Linked DNA regions of Homo sapiens: all the other regions are linked to region 3. The links come from fine-mapping of genetic effects on gene expression. A gene starts in region 3. Each other region holds a variant in brackets. All regions are shown on one strand. Distances are between the middles of the regions.

The links. PIP is the estimated chance that this variant, and not a neighbour inherited with it, causes the effect.
Region 1: its variant is the best candidate, but not a certain one, in a credible set for the expression of CYP4V2 in pancreas (GTEx, PIP 0.54).
Region 2: its variant is the best candidate, but not a certain one, in a credible set for the expression of CYP4V2 in whole blood (INTERVAL, PIP 0.79).
Region 4: its variant is the best candidate, but not a certain one, in a credible set for the expression of CYP4V2 in esophagus mucosa (GTEx, PIP 0.83).

The regions. Positions count from the first base shown.
Region 1 is chr4:186,236,621-186,239,306 of GRCh38, reverse strand. KLKB1 (kallikrein B1) reads right to left here. Exons shown (of 15, transcript NM_000892.5): 5 at 2,367-2,526; 6 at 942-1,051. LOC124900873 (a long non-coding RNA gene) reads right to left here and starts at 902. Exons shown (of 2, transcript XR_007058497.1): 1 at 262-902; 2 at 1-142. The variant C/G (reference allele first, on the strand shown) is at 1,179.
Region 2 is chr4:186,163,024-186,165,709 of GRCh38, reverse strand. FAM149A (family with sequence similarity 149 member A) reads right to left here. Exons shown (of 14, transcript NM_001395294.1): 10 at 2,077-2,286; 11 at 246-366. Among named protein-coding and RNA genes, the nearest start is that of FLJ38576, 27 kb to the left of the region's middle. The variant A/T (reference allele first, on the strand shown) is at 1,435.
Region 3 is chr4:186,189,909-186,192,594 of GRCh38, reverse strand. CYP4V2 (cytochrome P450 family 4 subfamily V member 2) reads right to left here and starts at 1,028. Exons shown (of 11, transcript NM_207352.4): 1 at 558-1,028. The coding sequence starts at 771. FLJ38576 (a long non-coding RNA gene) reads left to right here and starts at 1,105. Exons shown (of 1, transcript NR_046264.1): 1 at 1,105-2,686. RefSeq lists a silencer at 702-1,231.
Region 4 is chr4:186,299,150-186,301,835 of GRCh38, reverse strand. The region is part of intron 1 of F11-AS1 (F11 antisense RNA 1); the gene reads left to right. Among named protein-coding and RNA genes, the nearest start is that of F11, 34 kb to the right of the region's middle. The variant G/A (reference allele first, on the strand shown) is at 1,274.

The sequences.
Region 1 (2,686 bases), 47 kb before region 3:
ATAACTATAACAGTATCACTGTACTAGTTTTCTATAACTATAACAGTATCACTGTCCTATATCACTCTACCTATAACTCTAACAGTATCACTGTACTAGTTTCCTATAACTATAACAGTATCACTGTCCTATGTCACTGTACCTATAACTCTAACAGTATCACTGTACTAGTTTCCTATAACAGTATCACTGTCCTATATCACTGTACCTGTAACAGTATCACTGTACTAGTTTCCTATAACTATAACAATATCACTGTACCTATAACTCTAACAGTATCACTGTACTAGTTTCCTATAACTATAACAATATCACTGTCCTATATCACTGTCCTATAACTCTAACAGTATCACTGTACTAGTTTCCTATAACTATAACAGTATCACTGTCCTATATCACTGTCCTATAACTCTAACAGTATCACTGTACTAGTTTCCTATAACTGCTGCTCTAGGGGCATAACCACAAACTTAGTGGTTAAAAACAACACAAATTAATTATCTTACTGTTCTAGAGATTGGGTCTTACTGGGCTAAAATCAAGACATCAGCAGGGCTTCTTCCTCCAGGACGCTCCACAGGGAAACTCTTTCCTCGCCCTTTTCAACTTCTAGAGGCCGCCTGCATTCCTTGGCTCACGGACCTTCATCTTCAAAGCCAGCAGTGTAATACCTTCAAACCTCTCTCTCTGGCTCTGAGCCTTCCGCCTCTCTCTTTTTCTTATGAGCCTTGTGAGCACTCAACCCTGTGAGTACATTGGGCCCATTCAGAAAATCCAGAGTAAACTCCCCATCTCGAAGCCCGTAACTGCATGCCATTGACAGAAACGCTTTTGCCAGCTATGGGAACACACGCACAGGTCCCAGGGCTCAGCACAGGGACGTCTCTGGGGGCTCCTATTCCACCTACCACAATCACAAAGTGAAGTAGTCCTACAATTACCAATTTCTGAAAGGGCACAGGGCTTCAGTGAGAATCCAGATTCCACGTTACTCAGCACCTTTATAGCGGTAGGTGTTCCTCCGGGACTGTACTTTAATAGGCAATTGTTCCTGAATGGGAAGAAAAGAGGTTACTTTGCTTTCTGCACTTTGAGGGGCAGGGAGCAGTGCAGGTAACAGTTAGTATTAAAATGCACAGTGGAAAAACAATGACCCTGATAATGAGTGGGTTAGGGGT[C/G]TGCATTATTAACCTAATGGACATCCTTCCCCTCGCAAAGGGGTAAAGGAAAAGTTAGGGTGAGAATGAGGCAGGAGACTCCGTGACACTAAACCCTCATTCTATAAGCAAGGCCTATGTGTGGGGCAAACGGAACTTCAGGAAAAATGACACCAAAATTCGCTTCAGGAAAGCGAAAAATGACACAGACTTCAGAAAATGACTTCAGAAAAAATGACACCAAAATTTTGCTTCAGGAAAAAATGACACCAAAATTGAGTAGAGCATGGAGCGATAGACAGTAGAGACTGGGAAGGTGACAGAGAGGTGGGAAGGGGGCGGGCGTTGAAAAATAGCTTAGTGGGTACAATGTACATGACTCCAGTGATGGATATACCAAAAGCCCAGACTTTACCACTGTAAAATACATCAAAGTAACAAAATTACACTTGTACCCCATACATCTATGCAAATAAAAATAAGATTTAAAAATAAGGAAAAAAATCACAAGTTAATATCAAATTGTGATTAGCTCTATGAATGAAATAAACAGAGCTGAGTGTGACTTAAAAGAGAATGCTCAGAAATGGGCTTTTGGAGGGGACGGTATTTGAGGAAAGACCTGCAAGAATCAGCTTTGGAGAAGTAGGGGAAGAGGATGTCAGGCTTTGAAGATGCGGTACAATTACATGCCAGGGGAAAAGAGTAGAGAAACAAATGAAATTAAATGAATTATTTAATTAAAAAATGAAGGGCGAGGCGCAGTGGCTCATGCCTGTAATCCCAGCGCTTTGGGAGGCTGAGGTGGGTGGATCACAAGATCAGGAGTTCGAGACCAGCCTGACCAACATAGTAAAACCCCGACTCTACTAAAAATACAAAAATTAGCCAGGCATGGTGGCGGACGCCTGTAATCCCAGCTACTCGGGAGGCTGAGGCAGGAGAATCGCTTGAACCCGGGAAGCGGAGGTTGTAGTGAGTCGAGATTACGCCACTGCACTCTAGCCTGGGCGACAGAGCGCGACTCCATCTCAATAAATAAATAAATAAATAAAAGATAAAAAAATAAAATAGAGTAAGTAAATGAGGAAAGTGGTTAGAATAAAAGCCCTGTTTGGTTTTTAGTTTGGGAACAAAAGAGGTTAAGAAGAATACAGTGAAATCCTGGAGGCACCAATACAAAGAACACACACCTTGAATTGTACTCACCGGTACTCTGCCTTGTGAAATGTTTGCGTGGCATATGAAAAAAACTGGCAGCGAATGTTACTGGTGCACCTTTTTTGGCATTCTTCAACACTGCTAACCTTAGACACATTAAAATTGACTCCTCTCATATCAACTCCTTTATAAATGTCTCGATGGCAAGCTGTACAAGAAAAATACATAGAGCAAATACAGTCCATTTTCTTTCTAGAGGTAGATTAGATACCCACTACCATTTGGGTTGGTAGTTTAGAATGATAATAGCCCAGTTTTGGCAACTGCTATATTAACTAAGGGATTTAAAATTTTTATTATGTACATAA
Region 2 (2,686 bases), 27 kb after region 3:
CCTGGAATTTCTGATTTAGTTCAAGACATGCTTTTATTTCACAAAACGGTGAATTAAGCCTCTCACTCCCTGTAAATTCTCATAAGCCATTCATTTACTTTCTGGAAACAGATTATGAAGGCATTTGAATACAGCTACTCAGATCTCATGTTACTAATTTCACTTGGAAGTGCCAAGGTTGTTTTTGTTTGTTTTCCAATACAGAACCTAAATGGTCCACTGAAATAGAATGAAATCTGTCTTACAGAAACAAGGCGGCATCCAGGAACTGCTGTATTCTGCCCCCTGGTCTCCGTGACTAGCGGGGGGAACCTGCTCCGTGACGTTTGAACCAGTGGGGAAGCCATGTGGTCCACGCCAGTCGGCCTGCAACACATCATCATGTCACTGAGCACCCAGGTACATGGATAACTGGCAAGTGACAGGAAATCTGCCAAGAGCTGTGATTTCAATGTTTCTGCGTGAGGGGCACACAGGAGGTCTTTGATTTCTGCTATGTGTGGTATTATCCGGATGCTCCCCAGGGAACTTATAGCACTCTGATAACTATGGGAAAATGTTATCTCAATACAAGTGAAAGACAGAGGATGGAGGTGAGAAGACGCAGAGCTGGTGTGTGGGGGGGTCAGAGGGAAAGTGAGGCTGGCAGGTGAGAATCCAGGCGGGTGAGAAGCCGGGGGACACAGGTGAGGTAGCATCACCAAAGGGGGTGGGCACTGGCCCCTCTGAAGCCACAGCTTCCCTCGTATGTGTAGAGCACAGCTATGCACACAGACAAACAGGCTGTCTGTGGGACTACAATTCCATGTGTAGGGAGAGCAATTGGGAAGAATGGTCGAAAAGGGCTCCTCAGGGTGGCAATAATAAAAAGAAAGCTGAAAAATCAGCAGCCCACAGGGAGGGAGGGGTCAGAACACAGAGGGATTTGTACAGTTAGTGGCATCTGAATGTATCTCAGTAGGAAACATAAATGGGTTTCTATTTGATGAAGGTGTGACAGGGGGCCCAGGTAGGCTGGGGCAGGAGGAGAAAGCCTGCCATGTGTTGCTGACTGGCACCGTGTGCTGCTGACTGGCATGGGGGGAAGCGAGGCGGAGGAGGGAGAGGGATCTCGAAGGAATCAGCACAGCAGACCCAACACAGCTGGAAACATCAGTCCCAAACTGTGAAAGAAACAGTCACCAATTAAAAAGCTGAAAGGGGGGTTATGACTGCATCTGGAAAAAGTCTGGGTGCCAGGTAAGCGTTGGCAGCCGCCCGCTCCTGAGCTCGGCTCCTGATAACAGCTCCCCTGCAGGCCGGGGGTCCAGTGGGTGGTCTCTAAAGCCTGAGAGCACTTGTGGGTGTGTCCGGCTGGGCCTCTTCCTGGCGGGGATGATCTCCGGCAGGCTTAGCCTGTTCCCTCATCTCAGATTTGGGATAGTATGAGTCCCA[A/T]CAATATAAAGTTTTGTGGTGGGGAATAAATAAGATCATAAATGTAATTCATTTACCTGGCGCTGATAACAAAGAAAGTGATCAATAAACATTAGCTATTATTATCAATGTAAGTATTGGCCGATACTGGTAAGTTAGCTGGAGGGCAAGAGACAGGCACCTTTCTAACGAGGCCATGACGGGATGTGAATCCTGCAATCAACAGCTTTGCTGAAACTCCCACATAGAGAAAAATGCATCCTTAAAGATAATCCGATAGGGACACAGTCCTTTTATTTTTATAGCATTTTATATACATTATTTTATTTAAACCTCCCCTTGAAAAGTATTAATTATGTAATTGAAAGGCATTAGCTAATTATTTGTTTCACAGATGAGGCCACTGAAATCCACCCAAGGTCCCCCAGCATCAGAGGCTCATTCCGCCTGTGTGACAGGGACATTGCCTGACCTTGTGTCCTAGGATACAGCTAAGTAGACCACTGGAGCAAGCGGAATGTTAAATGCTCAATGAACTCATTAGAAAAGCATCTATGTAAAACTAGGTAGGGATGCTTTGTCCAGGATGATCCATAAACCCTAACTGAGAAGCATCTAGGTCCTCCGTGGCCTTTAGTTTACTATGAAAGAAATGAGACTCACAGTTTTGTTCCCCGAAGAACTTCGTCACTATAGATGTTGGGAGTTTTTAGTCTCTGTGAATCTGAAGCAAGAGAAGGCAGCCTCCAGGGCACTGGTGTTTTCTTTGCAGAAGGTGATAATCCATGAGTGTCTGAGGCCCGTCCCAGTCTGTGCGGTGCGGAGGAGAGAGCACCTGCCCCTCCACCCGATGCTTTGTCCTCCTTCTCATTCCTGGGAAGGAAATCCTGTGAGCTACTCAGCTGCGAGTGCTGTGATAACAGGGAACGCACCTGTCTGTGCTTAGTTGAGCACTGCCTAGAACAGTCTGGCACCTAGAACATACTCCTAAGCACGGGTTGAATGAATGAAAAGACCCATCATTTCTGTTTCTGTTTCAATGAAGAATCATCCACAGGCAGAGGGCTAAGGTTTTCCCTGTCAGTAATCAAACAGTCAAGCCCACAAGATTAAGAATTTCAGGACTACATTCCCCTTTCCCCATCTCTCCCTACCAAATACACGATAGTAACTGTTTTGTGGTTGGTACTAAAGGGTCTGTTTCTGCTCTTCCAGACGTGCTCAGGCACATCTGAAGCACGGGATTAAATGGGACCTTCGTGATCTCATGTCC
Region 3 (2,686 bases):
TGCCTGAAGGCCCTGCCGTCTCTTAATTGTTATTATGTAACATCCTTTAAAGGGCTAAAGTATGAAGGTCAAGCGGGAACTGAAGCAGCAGTCAAGTCTTGTGATGCCGGGAGGAAGCGTCCAGTGAATCTCTAGTCTCTTATTTTCCAAAGTGGCAGCGAGAGGAGGGCGGCTCTGGGCGTTAAGGTGTTGGCCAGTTTAAAACCGCTCTGTGCTCCCAGGGAGCTTCTGTTCCTAAGGCTTCCCAAGCCAAGGCAGGAGGAAACGGCAGGGCTTTGAGAGCTGAGCAGCGGTGAGGTGGGAAAAGACCGAGGGCAGGGGTTTGGAAATACCGCATCCTGTGCTACACACAAAGAAAATGCTCACTTTGGGATGGGGCACTAGCAGTGTCGGCGGGTGCCAAGGGGCAACGACTAGAACTGGGAGTGCATTCTCCACAGGGTGACAGGCTCCTCTCTCCTGCGGCCAGCGCCACAAGCAGCGGGTTCCTGGCTGATCGGAGGGTGGGAACGGGGCTGCGGACCCCGTTGCGCTCCAGGAGGAGCGCCGGCCCTTACCTCGCCCGTCCGGCTTCATCAGCAGCGCGTGGCCCACCAGTGGGTAGGCGCGGGCCACCGTGGGGATGGGCCGCATCTGCTGCCATTTCCGCGCGTAGCTCGCCACCCTCTGCAGCAGGCTCAGGACCAGACTGGCGCCGGCCAGGGAAAGGGCACTCGCCGCGCCCCACAGCAGCAGCTTCTGCCACACGAGCCCCAGCCAGAGCCCCGCCATCGCCCCGGCTGGCGGCCGCGGGGTGCACTCCGGGAAAGTGCGGGCCCGCGGGGGCGTGGTGCGAGGCGGTGCCGGCCGCACACCGCCCACTTCCCCGCGCGGACCTGGCGCGCTCCCCGCTGCGGGGTCGCCCGGTCCCCGGAACGACGTTTCCCGCCCGGGCGGCGGCCAGAGAGGGCGCCACGGGGCTGTTCCTGCGCCCGGCCCGGCCTACGCAGCACCGCGGCCTCCACGCCCCAGCCGAAAGCGAAAGACCGGAAAACGGTTTCCGGGCCCCAGGGCGTAGTGATTGCACTGGAGGCCCGGAGGCTGCGCCGGGAGGAGGCCGGCGACACTTCCGGCCGCCTCCGGATGCGGGGTCAGGGGCGTCGGAAAGGTCACCGCGGCAGCCCGGCGCGCCCCAGCGGGGCTGTTCTGAGGGTGCTGCGAGGTTGCTCTACGTGCGGGATTCCGCGGGCGGGCAGCCTGCTCTGGAGAGGAAAGGAAGGCGCATCCGGCTCGGAGCCCAGCTCTGCTGCGCATCGCTCGCTCCCTGCGCAACTTGCAGCCCCGGGAGGCGGGGCGCGTCCTGGCTCCCGCGGGGTCACATGGAGCAGCGGGCGCTGTAATCCAGGGAGGCTTTGGGGACACGTTAGGGAAGTCAGCTACCCGTGTGTGTCCGCTGGCCCACTGGGACACTGGGAGCTCAATGAGGTGGTTATGAGCCAGGTATTTTCCAAAATACGCACCAGGCACCAGACCGAGGAAGCCGGAGCCCCGGAGAGCACGCAGGGGCGGGTGGGAGAGGAAGGCGGGCGAGGCTGCTCAGCGGGTGCCGGGAGACCGCAGCCGCGGGGTACTCGCAGAAGAGCCAAGACCTGCCACCCAGCCCGGGAAGGGAGGGAAGGGCCGCGAGAGGGTGCCCCATTTCAGCCTGGGGAGACGCGTGTGCTGGCCGCCAGTCTCTCTTCCCGGCAGAGGGCCCCAGTGCTGACCCCAGCCCCTTTTCCACGCTCGATGCTTCTTACAAAGTGGCCGGGCGAGGAGTGTCGCTCCCCGAGAGGCCAGGCCCTTCCTAAACACTAAAGTGCCAGGAAGATGAAACTGAATGTCCTGGATGCCCGCTTTGCTTAATTACTAATTACGTTCGTTCACTCGAAGCCACTGCATAAGTTGGCCACAGCCACCTGCAGGGCCTCTTTAGTGCAGAGAAAAACATGCCTAAGGCTTTTCTCCATTTGAATTTGTTTTAAGTCATCTGCATGGGCTGACGTGAAATAGCAAGTGAACAAAACAAGTTGCAGAACGGAGTGTGTAAAGTAATGCCTTCTTTTGGAGAAAAGGTTTCTTTCTCTACGGCTCCACTAATGTCTGCAAGTAAAAATACTGATCAGCTCTATGGAGTGGGAATGAAGATGGGGAACTTACGCTTTTTATTTCATTCACGTCTACATTGTTTAATCACTTTAACACTTTAAAAAATAAATATGTTCACTTAGTATCTTTAAGCAAGTCTCATGGGCTTTAGTTTCCTCCTCTCTAAAGGGTTGAGGCTGAGCTATAATAAGGTTAATTACAGCTATAAAAGTAAACAATTTGTCTACATACTGGGGATTCTAAAATAGGGGGAGGAAGGAAGGGGAGTAATGGTTGAAAAACTGTGTATTGGGTACTGTGTTCCCTATTCAGGTGAGGGGATCAATAGAAACTCAAACCTCAGCGTCAGGCAAATTTAACAAACCTGCACATGTGCTCTTGAATCTAAAATTAGAAAGAAAAAGGGTTTGTCTGTATCAGTCTCTGCTAACCTCTGTGGATAAAACCAGGCGGGTAACATACAACCCCTCCCCTCCAGAAGGAGAGAAGGGAGATTGCTCTGGGCAGCAGTGAGTCTCGGCCTGGGCAGAAATGGTCAGAAATGCTGCAGAGCCAGGAG
Region 4 (2,686 bases), 110 kb before region 3:
GTGAAAAGATAACCCATAGTATGGCATAAAATATTTGCAAATCATGTATCTAACAAGGACTAGTATCCAGAATATGTAAAGAACTCACAACTTTGTAATAAAAAGAAAATACCCCAATTAAAAATGGAGAAAATAAGTAAATAAATATTTCTCCAAAGAAGATGTACTAATGGCTGATAAACACATAAAGATGTTCTCAACATCATTAATCCTTGGGGAAATGCAAATCAAAACCACAATAAGATACCACTTCACACCCACTAAGGTGGGCTTAGAATCAAAAAGACGGAATCATCGATGTTAGCCAGGATGTGGTGACATTGGAGGCTTCAGACATTGCTGGTGGGAATGTAAAATGGTGTAGCTGCTTTCAAAAACATCATTCTTCAAAATATGAAACATAGTGTTCCCATATGACCCAGAAATTCTGCTCCTGGGTACTACACACTCAACAGAAAGATAAACGTGTCTACACAAAAACTCATACATGAATATTTATAGCAGCATTATTCATGATGGCCAAAAAGTGAGAAAACCCACATTTCCATCGATGAATGGGTAAATAAAATGTGTATAATTATACAAGGGCAATTCCTTTTTATTATATGGCAATAAAAAGGAATGAAGTACAGGCTTTAGAACATGGTTCCTCCTTGAAAACAAGGTGAAAGTGAAAGAAACAGGTCACAAAACACCCCATGTTGTATGATTGCATTTATGTAAAATGTTCAGAAGAGGCAAATCTACACATAGGTATGAGGTTTCTTTGGGGGAGTGATGAAGATGATAGAAAATTAGATTAATGATCACACTACTCTGAGAATATACTAAAAATCACCGAATCGTCATTTTAAATGGAAGTTTGGGTATATATGAATTATGTATCAATAAATCTGCTTGTTAAACAGTGCACACTATCAAGATGACTTACCACTGATGATGTTACCTCATCAACTAGCCTGTTTCTCCTCTGTAAATTACCTTTTCACTCCTATCCATGCTCTACTCCCTAAGCAAGGGATAGAGGGTTAAGCTCCACATCCTTGAGAGAGGAGAAATGGTGTAACTTACCCGGAATCCTGTACAGCGGATTTCTCTCTTCTCTCTCATTATTTTGTTCATTCAATCATTTTGTATCAGTATGAACTCATGGATATTTATTTTTTACTTTAAGATGTAATCCAATGCTAGATTATTCATTCTGTCACTCAAGTTATTCCAGTTTTGGTTATTGGGAATTCTTTCAGGTTGGGGCTTATGTAATTATAAGTAA[G/A]TTACTTCTTTACAATAATTGTTAAATTGACCTGAACAGATCTGAAAACAAACACAGCCAATTTCAAATGTTTTGATTCAGCTGAATAGAAGAGACCTTTCCTGTGTGCACCAAAAAGTGGCCTTTGAGCATTTTCTGAGTGGCGAGATCAGTGCACGGCAAGAGTAAGGCCATCTTGAAGTGACTGTCGGACCCCTGCTCACCAATTAGTTCCTCAGAAACAATGCCTGTGACATAGACAACCCCTTCAAACAAACAATGCCTGGGGCATAGACGACCCCTATAAACAAACAGTGCCTGGGGCATAGATGACCCCTATAAAGATGCTTATTCAACCTCCCCACTGGTCAGCAGTTTTGCAAGAGGGTCTGGTGCATCAGTCTTATAAAAGCTTGCTATAGAAAGAACGTTTTCTGGGCCAGGTGCGGTGGCTCATGCCTGTAGTCCTAGCACTTTGGGAGGCCGAGGTAGGTGGATCACGAGGTCAAAAGATTGAGACCATCCTGGTCAACATGGTGAAACCCCGTCTCTACTAAAAATACAAGAATTACCTGGGTGTGGTGGTGGGCGCCTATAGCCTCAGCTACTCGGGAGGCTGGTGCAAATCACTTGAACCCGGGAGGCGGAGGTTGCAGTGAGCTGAGATCGCGTCACTGCAGTCTAGCCTGGTGACAGAGCGAGACTCCATATCAAAAAAGAAAGAAAAGAAAGATAGGAAGAAAGAAAGAAAGAAAGATGAAAGAAAGAAAGAAAGAAAGAAAGAAAGAAAGAAAGAAAGAAAGAAAGAAAGAAAGAAAGAAAGAAAGAAAGAAAGAAAGAAAGAAAAGAAAGAAAGAAAAAGCAAGCAAGCTTTCTGGAGGGCAGCTGTGGGATAAGTCCCTATTCAACGCTCCTTTCTGAGAGTCTGGATTTGTCAGCCTCTTTCCTCGGCCTCTCTGCACCCCCAGGCTTTGGGGGTGGGCTTGCATGGGTCTGCCCACTGGAACACAGGGTGTTTCCTGGTATGTGTGGGGAGTGCTGGCAGTGAATCTGAACATCAGTTAAGAGTCTCAACTCAATTTAGTTACTCATAAAACTAAGTCTAACGTGCAGATAAGAGATATCAATGCCCGCAGATGCAATTGTCTGCTTTTTCCACTCATTTTGTTAATGCCCAGGCAGAGACTTCCATGCCTTCAGACACTCCTGCCTGCACCCTATACTCCCCTCTCTACAGGCCATGAAAATAGGCAGTTACAGGCCTGGAAATCAATCGTAATGATTACTGTTGGATAAATTGGATAATGAGTAGGACAATGAATTTCACTGGTTTGTTTCTGAGAGTTTTGAGTATTTTTGATATTTGCATTTTTGAATCCTGCCTGTGTAGCAACCGGTATGCTTAGGGTGACTTTAAAAGGGAGCTCTTGAACT